Linked DNA regions of Homo sapiens. The protein of the gene in region 3 purifies or fractionates together with the protein of the main gene of each other region. This does not show direct contact. Each region holds a gene or a part of one and is shown on either strand. Other genes may lie near its edges.

Region 1 (3,654 bases), on a different chromosome or scaffold from region 3:
CTTATGCAGAAAAAAAGCAGTAGTCCAAGAGGCAAAATGCTTAAAAGGTTTGCTTGCTAAAATGTACAGAGGCAGAAGAATTAGGTCCAGGAGAAAAACATAAACCCGGATATACTATTTCTAGTACCTTTTTAAAAGAAATTAACAGTATTCACTGACTTTTGTAAAGTTAGGACACATTCAAACCTAGAATACGAAGTCTAATTATAAACCTGTAAAGGTAAAATGGAACTCAGAATTACCATGAGAAGGGTCATCTAATGATTTTGCATATAATCCACTTTTCCTAGGAGGATAAATGAAAGTAACAGAATCTTTTCAATGTAAGATAATTAATGCAAAGGGAGACAAGCTCCTTCTAAGGAACTGAATGGTGTCAGTGGGCCTGGTAAACCACAACTCCCAGAGAACCCCAAGTTTGCTGTAACTTTTTGTCTCCTGTCTTAGAAAATGTGTAATGATGGCATTAATTCATTGATTAAGGTTTCAAAATAAAGAATGAACTACAATTTTCCCTGCCCCTCGCCTCCATTTTTTAGGCTGTGAATGAGCAAGGCACCTGATGTGAGCTGCTGGCCATGAGCAAATGTTCTTTGCCTCCACCGAGGATTGACGCTGAGGGGAGGGAATTGGGGCAAATCACAGGAAGCTTTTCCCCAATGTCACCTAGCCAGGAACATCATAACATTGACTTCAAAGGTTTGCTGGAACTCTTTGAAAGAGAGATAAAGCTGTCTTTCTTTGGTAGTTGAGTACAGCCTTACCCAAAGGCCAAAGGCCTGATCTGACCGCATGGAGGGGGACTTTCTGTGATCCTCTGAGACTCAGTCATCTTGGCATTGTTGTGGGAGGGCCCAGGCTGCCTGCCTGCCCCAGCTATTCTGTGGTATTCACTGTTCTTCCACTTCAGAACTTCAGAACTTTTAGTTGGGCCCAACAGTTTATCTTTGTTTTGTGTATGACAAAATAGAAGCACTGAGAATTTTGAGGTACTTAGCCAAGGTGGTACAGAAAATAATAGCAAAGACTAAAACTCACATTTGGGCCCTTCAAACAATCTTTGAGGACTTGCTACTGCAAGTGGAGTGAGAAGACAAAGATGAAGCAGTCTTGGAGAGTGTCGAGGCTGAAGCAGAGGGTACACCTGCAGGTCATTGCCACGGGGAAGGGGCTGGCAGTGAGGTGAGGACAAGGCACTATGGCATCAAGGGAGAGGACCATTCTCGGGTCTATATGTGTAGGTTGGGGCAGGAGGCTTGGAAGAGGTGACATGTGAGCTCGAAAGAGAAGGAATCGATGTTTAATGTTTACTGGGGCCTGGCTGAGGCACTGGGGCACTTGTGCATCTCTTGAAAGAAAGGTGTGTAGCATACAGGGTCCTTCGGTGGCACTGTCTTCTCCGCTAACCTTTGTTCATGTGATGCAAAAAGCAGAAACATTTATCCTTTTTTTTTTCTTAGACAAATGCTAGCTCAATTCCTGATACAGAGTCACAGAATCACACAGCTTTAGAGGAAGAAACCACCTTAGAGCAAGTCCCATGCCCTAATTCCACCAAAAGTAAACTCAAGGACCAAGAGATGCCCCGAGGCACAGCAGATCAGTGCTGAGTGGAAACTGGAACCAGTCCCTCACTTTGCCTCCACTGTGGGCATGTTGGTGCTGCCAATGGCTCCAGAGGATTCGCTGATATTTGATTGCAGAATGAAGACAATTAGAACATAGCCATATCATTCATTTTCATATTTGGGCTTTGAGATACAAAGTACTACTTCTGTTCCTGTCATTTTCAGATCCTCCAAAGATTTCATGATCTTTTGAAAGCTTTCCCTTAAGTTTGGTACAGTCAGCCTGGGTTCCTGTCTCATTTCTGCCACATTAGTCGTATAATCTAGACATGTAACTTGTGTCTCAGTTTCCTTCTCTGTAAAATAGGGATAATTGTAATAGTACCTGCCTGGTAGAATTATGAGGGTTAAATGTACTAATATATGCATAAGCACTTATAATAGTACTATGCACATACTAAGTACTAAAATTATCATGTTTTGGGCATATTTGATATATGAGGGTGCTAAGTGTAGATTCGTTGTAGTGAATGATTTATCCAAGTTAATTCTTGGAGTCAAAGCAGAATTTAGAAATACTGCGAGTTAGAAATACATGCTAATTCTCAAGGTAATGGACAGGCTGCTACATTCCATTCACTTCTCAAGCAGTGTTAACTATCTGTACCAGAAGCTGAATTTAAATGCTGTCAGGGCAGAGGAGGAAAATAAAAGACTCAAGGAAGCTGGGTGTGTGCTTGTCAAACAGTAAGAAATTGCTCTTCTCTTCTAAAAAAGAACAATTTTTCTTCTCTTCCAATTTTTCTTTAAGTATAAGGTTTTTTTTTTTTTCAGGCTTTTACTTTGTCACTTTTGTTATAGGCATAGGAACAGAGAAATATTTTTCATCCAGTAAAACAAGTGGCTATGAAGGCACACAAAAAAATGACAGCTAAAAAAAAAAAATGGCAAGTGGCAACAGGCAAAAAATGGGGACTGTGGTGAGCTGCAGAGCACACGCCCAGCCTGAAGAGGTACGGACATTTCTTCCACTTCTTATTACCGTGAAGGGCTAAGGACCCCAGGTGGTTAGACCTTCAGTGTTTCCAGAGAAGCTCCAAATAGGGATTTATATAGGAAATTCCCTATTTTTTATTTATTGATTTTTTTTTTTTTGAGACAGAATCTCACTCTGTCCCAGGGTGGAGTACAGTGGTGCGATCTCTGCTCACTGCAACCTCCGCCTCCTGGGTTCAAGCAATTCTCCTGCCTCAGCCTTCTGAGTAACTGGGATTACAGGCATACACCACCACGCCTGGTTAATTTTTGTATTTTTAGTAGAGACAGGGTTTCACCATGTTGGCCAGGCTGATCTCGAACTCCTGACCTTGTGATCTGCTGCCCTTGGCCTCCCAAAGTGTTGGGATTACAGGTGTGAGCCACTGTGCCCTGCCGAAATTCCCTATTTTTAAATCTGGGATTCAGCCCCCAGAGTGCCAGTGTGCCATCTCTGGTCTACACAGCATGGAATCTCCATATGCTAATGTCATATACTCAGAGATTTCAGGCTAGAATTGTCAAGTCTTGTTCACTATGCAAAGTTAGAAGTATGCTTGGATAAAGAAAATGTACATATACACCATGGAATACTTTGCCGCTATAAAATGGTATGAGATCATGTCCTTTGCAGGGACATGGATGAAGCTGGAAGCCATCATCCTCAGCAAACTAACACAGGAACAGAAAACCAAACACTGCATGTTCTCACTCATAAGCAGGAGTTGAACAATGAGAATACATGGACACAGGGAGGGGAACAACACACACCAGGGCCTGTTGTGGGGTAGGTGGGACGAGGGGAGGGAACTTACAGGACGGGTCAATAGGTGCAGCAAACCTCCATGGCATACGTATACCTATGTAACAAACCTGCACATTCTGCACATGAATTCCGGAACTTAAAGTAAAATAAAAGAGATAAGTACATTCTATATTTTAAAACAGAATGTCCTTGTTCGCTGGGTAAGTAAGCACAGATTTCTGATTTCATTTCTAAAACACCCAACTTTGAATGAATAACACTGCTGCTGTGTAATTTAGATGATTG
Region 2 (3,654 bases), on a different chromosome or scaffold from region 3:
GATGGAGAAAAAAAGCCAATTGTGTCAGTCCTCCTAAAAGCTGTATGTTGGTCTCTAAAATTTGACTTCCAAAGGGACTTATAAGAATTAATCTTATTGTACATGATTTTGGTCTAAAACCCTAGACCAGTGTTAGGGTCTAACACCCCCAGCCAGTGTTAGTTAACAACCTAACTTTAGAACTTAAAATCCCATGTAAAACACAACAAAACTGCACATGACAATAAATTTAAGCTTTTGAAATATTTGTTTCTAAGTCAATCTTTTACATAAGTTCTTAAATACTGTTACTTGTTAACATTTAAATAACATTAAATCACTACATATATTACATGACATGTCTTTCAAAATATGCACTACAGACTTTCTTTACTAATTTAGTATAGGTTAACTAGCTGTCAACACAATTTATGAGTATGGTATTGACTGCATATCTGAATATATTTTTTTATTATGAAATAAATTACATATATACCTAAAGGTTATTATTTAGATTTTACATTCTTATATACAATCTAATTCTATTGCACTTACTGTATTTCTTAATTTTACCACGCATGGTATAATCAGTATTTCTATAAATTTAAAAATAACTGGGGATAATGTAATTTTATTACATGTGATAAATGTCATGCCCAAGTTGGTACACAAGTTATATTCTCATGGCTCATCCTATATATAGTACACTTCAAATAGTGGATATATAATACTACTTGGTTCAAAGGCAAATGTAAAAACATCAAACTTAGCTAATTTTCTTTATTTCAATTACTAAAACAAAAGGCCATGTGAATCTTTCTATGACACCCCTGGAACCTCCACCCTCAATGCAGCAACTAACTATATCCACCTCCAAAGGAATAGGTGGAACACAACAGAAAGGCCACTCTCCTTGGTCTATCAAGTCCTTCCACACCCTCCATCGGACCATCTGATGCTTGTAGGGGCAATCTGGGGCTGGAAACAGTGAATTAAGACTTACTCATAATTTGTAAGACTGTAAGTTTCATAAATACAAAAAAAACCAAAAAACAGTGTGCTTTCTGGCAAAGAGTAGCTAGAAAATAATCTGCCTCCCCCAAATTCCTGTGACCCACAAGAAGCAGGCCAACTCTAATTGTAGTTTGATAGAAAAAATAAAAAATAACCCAACATATGGAAACGACACAAATTAGCTATGAAAAACTATTCCAAAGTTATATATACCATGTAGGATAAACACATTTAGATAATACGTATCTTTCTTGGTAATACACAAGCAAATACATACATGTCTATCACTGTTACTGCTGAAACACTTCACTGAAATAAATGTCAAAAGGAAGAATGATTACAGAGGAGGACCTGAAGTCACTTACTTGTAAATCTGTACTCATCCTCCCGTCTTCTTATTTCTAACTCTAAGAAAGAGGATGAAAATATTACATATTTGTTTACCTTGGGGGAACAAACAATGAGTATCCCACCTCCTGTCCTCTTTCAAATATATTTAAAGGATTTGTTCATTAACATTTTTCAGCTTTTCATATATGCTATATCTTTTCTATATTAAAACAAAACCATGCATAAAGACCGCTGTCCAGTTGCTAATATTCACATTTGTCAAATATATAATTGATATCTATTGTAAGGGTATAATAACATAAGTCTTTAATAAGAGTTTAAGCCCCTCATGCTATAAATATTATAACCATTTGCTCCTCCAGCACTTAGAATAGCTTAAATATCTATTTATTACCGAGGAAAACAAAAAAGTTTTGCTCCATAACTATCAGTGCTATTTGGACCTTATAAAAATGAAGATTTCAGGCCAGGCGCAAGAGTTCACGCCTATTAATCCCAGCACTTTGGGAGGCTGAGGCAGATGGATTGCTTGGGAGACTGAGGTGGGAGGATCACTGGAGCCTGGGAAGTTGAGGCTGCAGTGAGTCGCAATCCAGCCTGGGTGACAGAGAGAGACCTTGTCTTGAAAAAAAGAAAAAGGTTCCAAGTCATCCGTTAGTTATGACTTATACTTTCTAAAAATAACTGATACCATCACATACCTATTTTGCAGTTATGTGATGTAAGTTCAGCAAGTGAACAAGTGTCTTCATTGAAATAAATTATACATTTAGTTGCTACTAAAGGCAATCAAAGATAATGTAGACTTATAAATTTAAGTACTTAGCAGAACTCCTTCACACTGTACAGTGATAACTAAAAGAATCTAAAATGATGGAATATAGGCCTAAATCAGAAATTGGGGCTGTCTGGCCAACAAAACAAAAAATTAAATATTCATATTTACTCTATGCATAATTGTTTTTAATAAATCATTCTATTAATATACATTATTGTCCATAGTAAATTGAGATTATACAGTATACTGTATAATGACTACAGCCATGTGCCACCCCACCTGGCTAATTTTTGTATTTTTAGTAGAGACGGAGTTTCCCATGCTGGCCAGGCAGGTCTCGAACTCCTGACCTCAAGTGATCCCCCCGCCTCGGCCTCCAAACGTGCTGGGATTACCGGCATAAGCCACCATGCCAGGCCTAAGAAATAATATTTACCTTAACTGTAAGTTAATGTATTCTGTTATTTTCTATTCATATCTATCAAATTTTTAAAAAATGCTGTTGGCAAATGATTTCATAACACACTAATGGGGAATAACCTGCACTTTGAAAAATGCCACACTATATAAAAAACATTTTAAGAAGAAAGTGAGGAGTTACAAATAAAGATTACTTTTAAGCATAGCAATCTCTATTTAGGTCAATTATCAAAAACGCTACCTCTTGGTGTTAATGATGTCTGCTTCTCAACCTCTGCTTGCTGTCTCAGATTAGCTGGGATATTATTATATATTCTCTTATAATGATTGTACACAGCAACTGAAAGCACCTTCTTAGCAAATGACTGGCCAACAACATACTTGTCGAGGTAGTTATAAATCTGAAAAATGATTAGGTATGAATAATTTAATATGAGCTATTATAAGAGCACACACATTAAAAAGTTATTTACTAAGCATATTTGCTTACAGTTTTAAATCTGAACAAAGACTCTCATTAAAAACAAAATGACAATACATTATATAGCAATGATTCAGAGGCCCTGAACACTAAATGAACAAAAACACAATTCATTTGTTCTCTAGCTTAACAAAGTATCACTGTACTCTACTAGTGTTGTGCTAATTTCTATTCTATAAACAATGCTATCAATCTTTATTTTTTGATAACAAATTAAATTTAAAGTAACTTAGAATACATACACATGCCACCATGGTCTAAAAGTATCAACATTAATGTAAATCATTAAAATAAATCCATACCTGTCAATCAAATGAATAACATTCTTCACAAAGATAACATTATAAAACTACTCTTTTCAGAAACAGGCATTACATAATCAAAAGCCATTATACTATCAGTATCTATGTGTTTTAGTAAATTTAATTTTTTCTCAGACATTAACTTTAAAGCTACTCATTTATCTGAGACTCTAAAAACTGTATTCTTATTTTTTTTTATTTTCTAAAAATATATTTTTTTCTTTTTTTGATACAGGGTCTCACTGTGTCGCCAAGGCTGGTCTTGAACTCCTGGGGCTCAAGCAATCTTCCTGCCTTGGCTTCCCAAAGTGCTGGGATTACAGGCATGA
Region 3 (3,554 bases):
AGCGTGGTGCGGTCTGATGTTTTACGGCGTCCTTGGTGAGAGTGGTTGGACGGTGGGCAAGTGTGGCTGCTGACTGGCCAGTTAGGGGCCAGTGCTGCAGCACAGGTGGCTTGGAACCAGGCAGTGGTGGTGACAGAGGGAAGGAGTAGAGTCTAAATGTGTCTTGAAGGTGGCGCTAACAGAATTGGCCAACATGACAAGAGAAGAGTCCAGAATGACTCCTAAGTCTTTTGGCCTGGGCGGCTGATGGGTGGAGTTGCTGTTTCTTTGAACACGGAAGTCTGTGGGAGCAGCAGGTTTCCGGCTGAAGAGGAGCTCAGGGTGGGTGTGCTGCTGGAGCTGTTGTCTGCGTCGGTAGGAGTGCTGGGTGGGAGTGCTGGGTGCACAGTTGGATGTGGGAGATAGTCTCCCACCAGCAGCTTGTTTGGGTGGCATGAGTGTCCATGCTGTATCCCTGTCTTTCAAACTCCCAAAGCAGAAGCATCACATTCCAGGGAACTTGTTCCATCTATCCTAGCCTCCTCCTTGTCTAGGAGGGTCCACTTCATGGTCCGGTCTCAGGTCTCCTGGGCCCCTGGGCCTCCCCAGGGCTCCTCTCTGTGCCCAGCGAGCAACAGCGGCTGCCTTGGTAGCCAACTAGTATCACTGCTTGCCTGTGGTGCCAGAGATGGTAGAGATGGATCCCGATCCCCGGCCCACTGTGGAGACAGTCCTGGTTGGAAACGTGGCAGGGAGCACCTGCAGTGCCGGAGCTGGGCTCCAGAGCTGACGGGGCCGCCCCTTCCCTGTAGTGGCCCTGGTGAGTCTGTCCCTCCTTCCCTGGGCCGCTCTGAGGACGAGGCCTGGCCAGAAGCCTGGGAGTCAGTGCCTGCTACAATCAGCATTTCCTCTGTGGTTTAGCTCCAGGCGGACGACGTGGGCCGAAGAGAGGAAGCTCAACACAGAGACCTTTGGGGTGTCAGGGAGGTTTCTTCGTGGCCGCAGTTCTCGGGGCGGATTCCGAGGAGGCAGGGGCAATGGGACCACCCGTCGCAACCCCACTTCCCACAGGGCCGGGACTGGCAGGGTGTGAGGGTGCAGCCAAAGGTGAGTGGATGAACCTTCTGGACGCTTTGGTGGGAGGGTGTAGGGTCAGGCACACCTGGAGAGCTTAGGAAGGTGGGGAGCAGGCTCGGTTTCCCAGGAAGAAGAGAGGCCCAGAGGTGTCAAAGCCAAACCGAGGGCCTCGACCCTATGAGTCACCCGGGAGGCTCTTGGCCAACTTCAACCTGCATCTGTGGGGGTAGGATCCAGGCCCCAGCATCCTCCAAGTGAGATTGCAGGTATGGGAGGTGAGGTGGTGCGGGAGTCGCGTGGGCTGGGGGCTCACCACCCAGGTGAAGCCAGCAAGTGAGACCTTGCTCCAAAGCCAGTGTCTTGGCCCAACCCGGCCCTAAGTGAATCAGAGGCTTCATTTTTAACCAGGTCCCAGTGGATTTGTGGGCACCTTAGGGTTTGGGCGGAGCGTCCCACATGGGGTGCCTGGTGCCAACCCCACCCAGCGCCTCGGGACAGCCAGGTGGGCCCTGGAAAGACTAGCCCTCCTGCCACTAGCTGCGTCCCTGTCCCCAGTGTATTGTACAAGTAGGATTCTCAGAGTGGGTTGTGAGAAGAATGGGGGTAGCCAGTCTGACTCTGGGGGCAGGAGGGAGGCTGAGTGGCTCCTGCTCGCCAGCAGGGGCAACAGTGCTAGCTTATCCCAGCAGATGCTTGACTTCCTGTCATCTCTTGCAGGCTCCTACTGAAGTGGCGCATAACTGACGCTGTGTGTGTCAGGACGCGAGGAAAACGCTGCACTTACAGGGAGAGGTGGTCACTTTGTTTACGGAGTTTGGAAGAGACCCATACTGCTACTTGTGTTTTGGACTTAACTGAACTTGGACATGGTCTGAGTTAGAACCACTTGTTTTGGGGAAGTATTCATGGGTAACCTCTTTGAGGTCTCTTTATCTGTGTTTCCTTTTTAGTTGCGCATAGCCTAATTCTAAGGTTTTGGTATTTTGCAAAAAGGTTTCTATAGTGAAAGCTGAATCCTTACTTTGTGACTTTTTTTTTTTTTTTTAATGACAAGCTTTGACTTTTAAAAGTGGAACCAAATCTGTTGGCAGAGGTGGCAGCCAAGTACATCTCTGTAACCCAGCTGGCCCCTGGTGCTGTTGGCCTGGCACCCCACTGCCAAGGGTGGGGTCTCAGGAGTCAGGCAGGGCCAGCACAGGGTGGCGTGGGGGGCAGGGGTGGGTGGGTGGAGGGCACGGAAGGGGTTTTCCCATGGATCATGTTGTATAAGTGAACCAGACCACCCTGATGGCATCCACAGTGATGTCAAGGTTGGGGCTGGCCAGGGGTGGGTGGACTAGAAGCATTTGGGAGTAGTGGCCAGGGGCCCTGGACGCTAGCCACGGAGCTGCTGCACAGAGCCTGGTGTCCACAAGCTTCCAGGTTGGGGTTGGAGCCTGGGATGAGCCCCGGCAGCGCCTTGGCCCTTCTGTGGTCCCTGCCAGCCTCTGACCTGGGCCGGTCAGTCATTGCTGGACTCTGGCCACACACTGGCGTTCTCATCCACTTGGAAACAAGCCAGTCTTTTCTGCAAGGTCAGTTGACCAAGAGCATATTTCCCCTCTGTTGTACATCGTTGTTTTGTGTTTGTGTTGTAACAGTGGGTGGAGGGAGGGTGGGGTCTACATTTGTTGCATGAGTCGATGGGTCAGAACTTTAGTATACGCATGCGTCCTCTGAGTGACAGGGCATTTTGTCGAAAATAAGCACCTTGGTAACTAAACCCCTCTAATAGCTATAAAGGCTTTAGTTCTGTATTGATTAAGTTACTGTAAAAGCTTGGGTTTATTTTTGTAGGACTTAATGGCTAAGAATTAGAACATAGCAAGGGGGCTCCTCTGTTGGAGTAATGTAAATTGTAATTATAAATAAACATGCAAACCTTTAAAATTTTCTTTTCTGATGCTCTAAGAATCCTGTTGACTCTTCTGCCCAAGTCACCTCTGCATCATGTCCAGGTCTGGAGCACACACTTAGGCTGGTGGAATTTGGGGAGACTTGGGCCCCATCAGGTGATGGAACGAGGTGGCTGACCCAATTGGTCGGGTGAAGTGCGGCCAGCAGACCCGGGTTCTCCCTGTGGGCCACCCTTCTGGGATGAATGGCTCTGCTCTCAGAAACTGGATACAAAGTTCTTTTAAAAACCCAGCTCACAGATAACACCTGTATCATAAGCAGTGGCCCCTTTGCCACCTTCCTGCTGCCTCCAAGCTCCCCAGCTCAGGAGCGTTCAGGTTCTCAGGCACCGTAGAGCATGTTACACAGCCATGAGCAAGCTGCACCCTGGACCCACGCAGAAAAACAAAGACATGGCTGGTTCTAGGCTCAGAGCATCCCATTTTAGTCTAATGGGTTTCCAGGTGACCTTAAAAGTGGCCCTCAGAGAGGACGAGGAGACACACCAGCTGCATGAGTTCTCCTTTCATTACCTGCCTGTGGCCATCAGGCTCCACAGCAGA

Evidence for each region.
Region 1: the proteins of LSM14B (region 3) and CILK1 purify together in Homo sapiens (affinity purification with mass spectrometry; 3 studies listed by BioGRID and IntAct, with this or other methods). This does not show direct contact.
Region 2: the proteins of LSM14B (region 3) and CLPX purify together in Homo sapiens (affinity purification with mass spectrometry; one large-scale study listed by BioGRID and IntAct). This does not show direct contact.

Annotation. Positions count from the first base shown.
Region 1 is NC_000006.12:53,051,798-53,055,451, reverse strand, and holds part of CILK1 (serine/threonine-protein kinase ICK), read left to right. Parts: intron 1-3,654.
Region 2 is NC_000015.10:65,161,246-65,164,899, forward strand, and holds part of CLPX (ATP-dependent clpX-like chaperone, mitochondrial precursor), read right to left. Parts: intron 2,944-3,654; coding exon 2,784-2,943; intron 1,401-2,783; coding exon 1,359-1,400; intron 1-1,358. UniProt on the Homo sapiens protein: ATP-dependent chaperone that functions as an unfoldase.
Region 3 is NC_000020.11:62,132,390-62,135,943, forward strand, and holds the end of LSM14B (protein LSM14 homolog B), read left to right. Parts: exon of another isoform or gene 1-799; intron 800-900; coding exon 901-1,072; 3' UTR 1,073-1,086; intron 1,087-1,773; 3' UTR 1,774-2,985; downstream 2,986-3,554. UniProt on the Homo sapiens protein: mRNA-binding protein essential for female fertility, oocyte meiotic maturation and the assembly of MARDO (mitochondria-associated ribonucleoprotein domain), a membraneless compartment that stores maternal mRNAs in oocytes.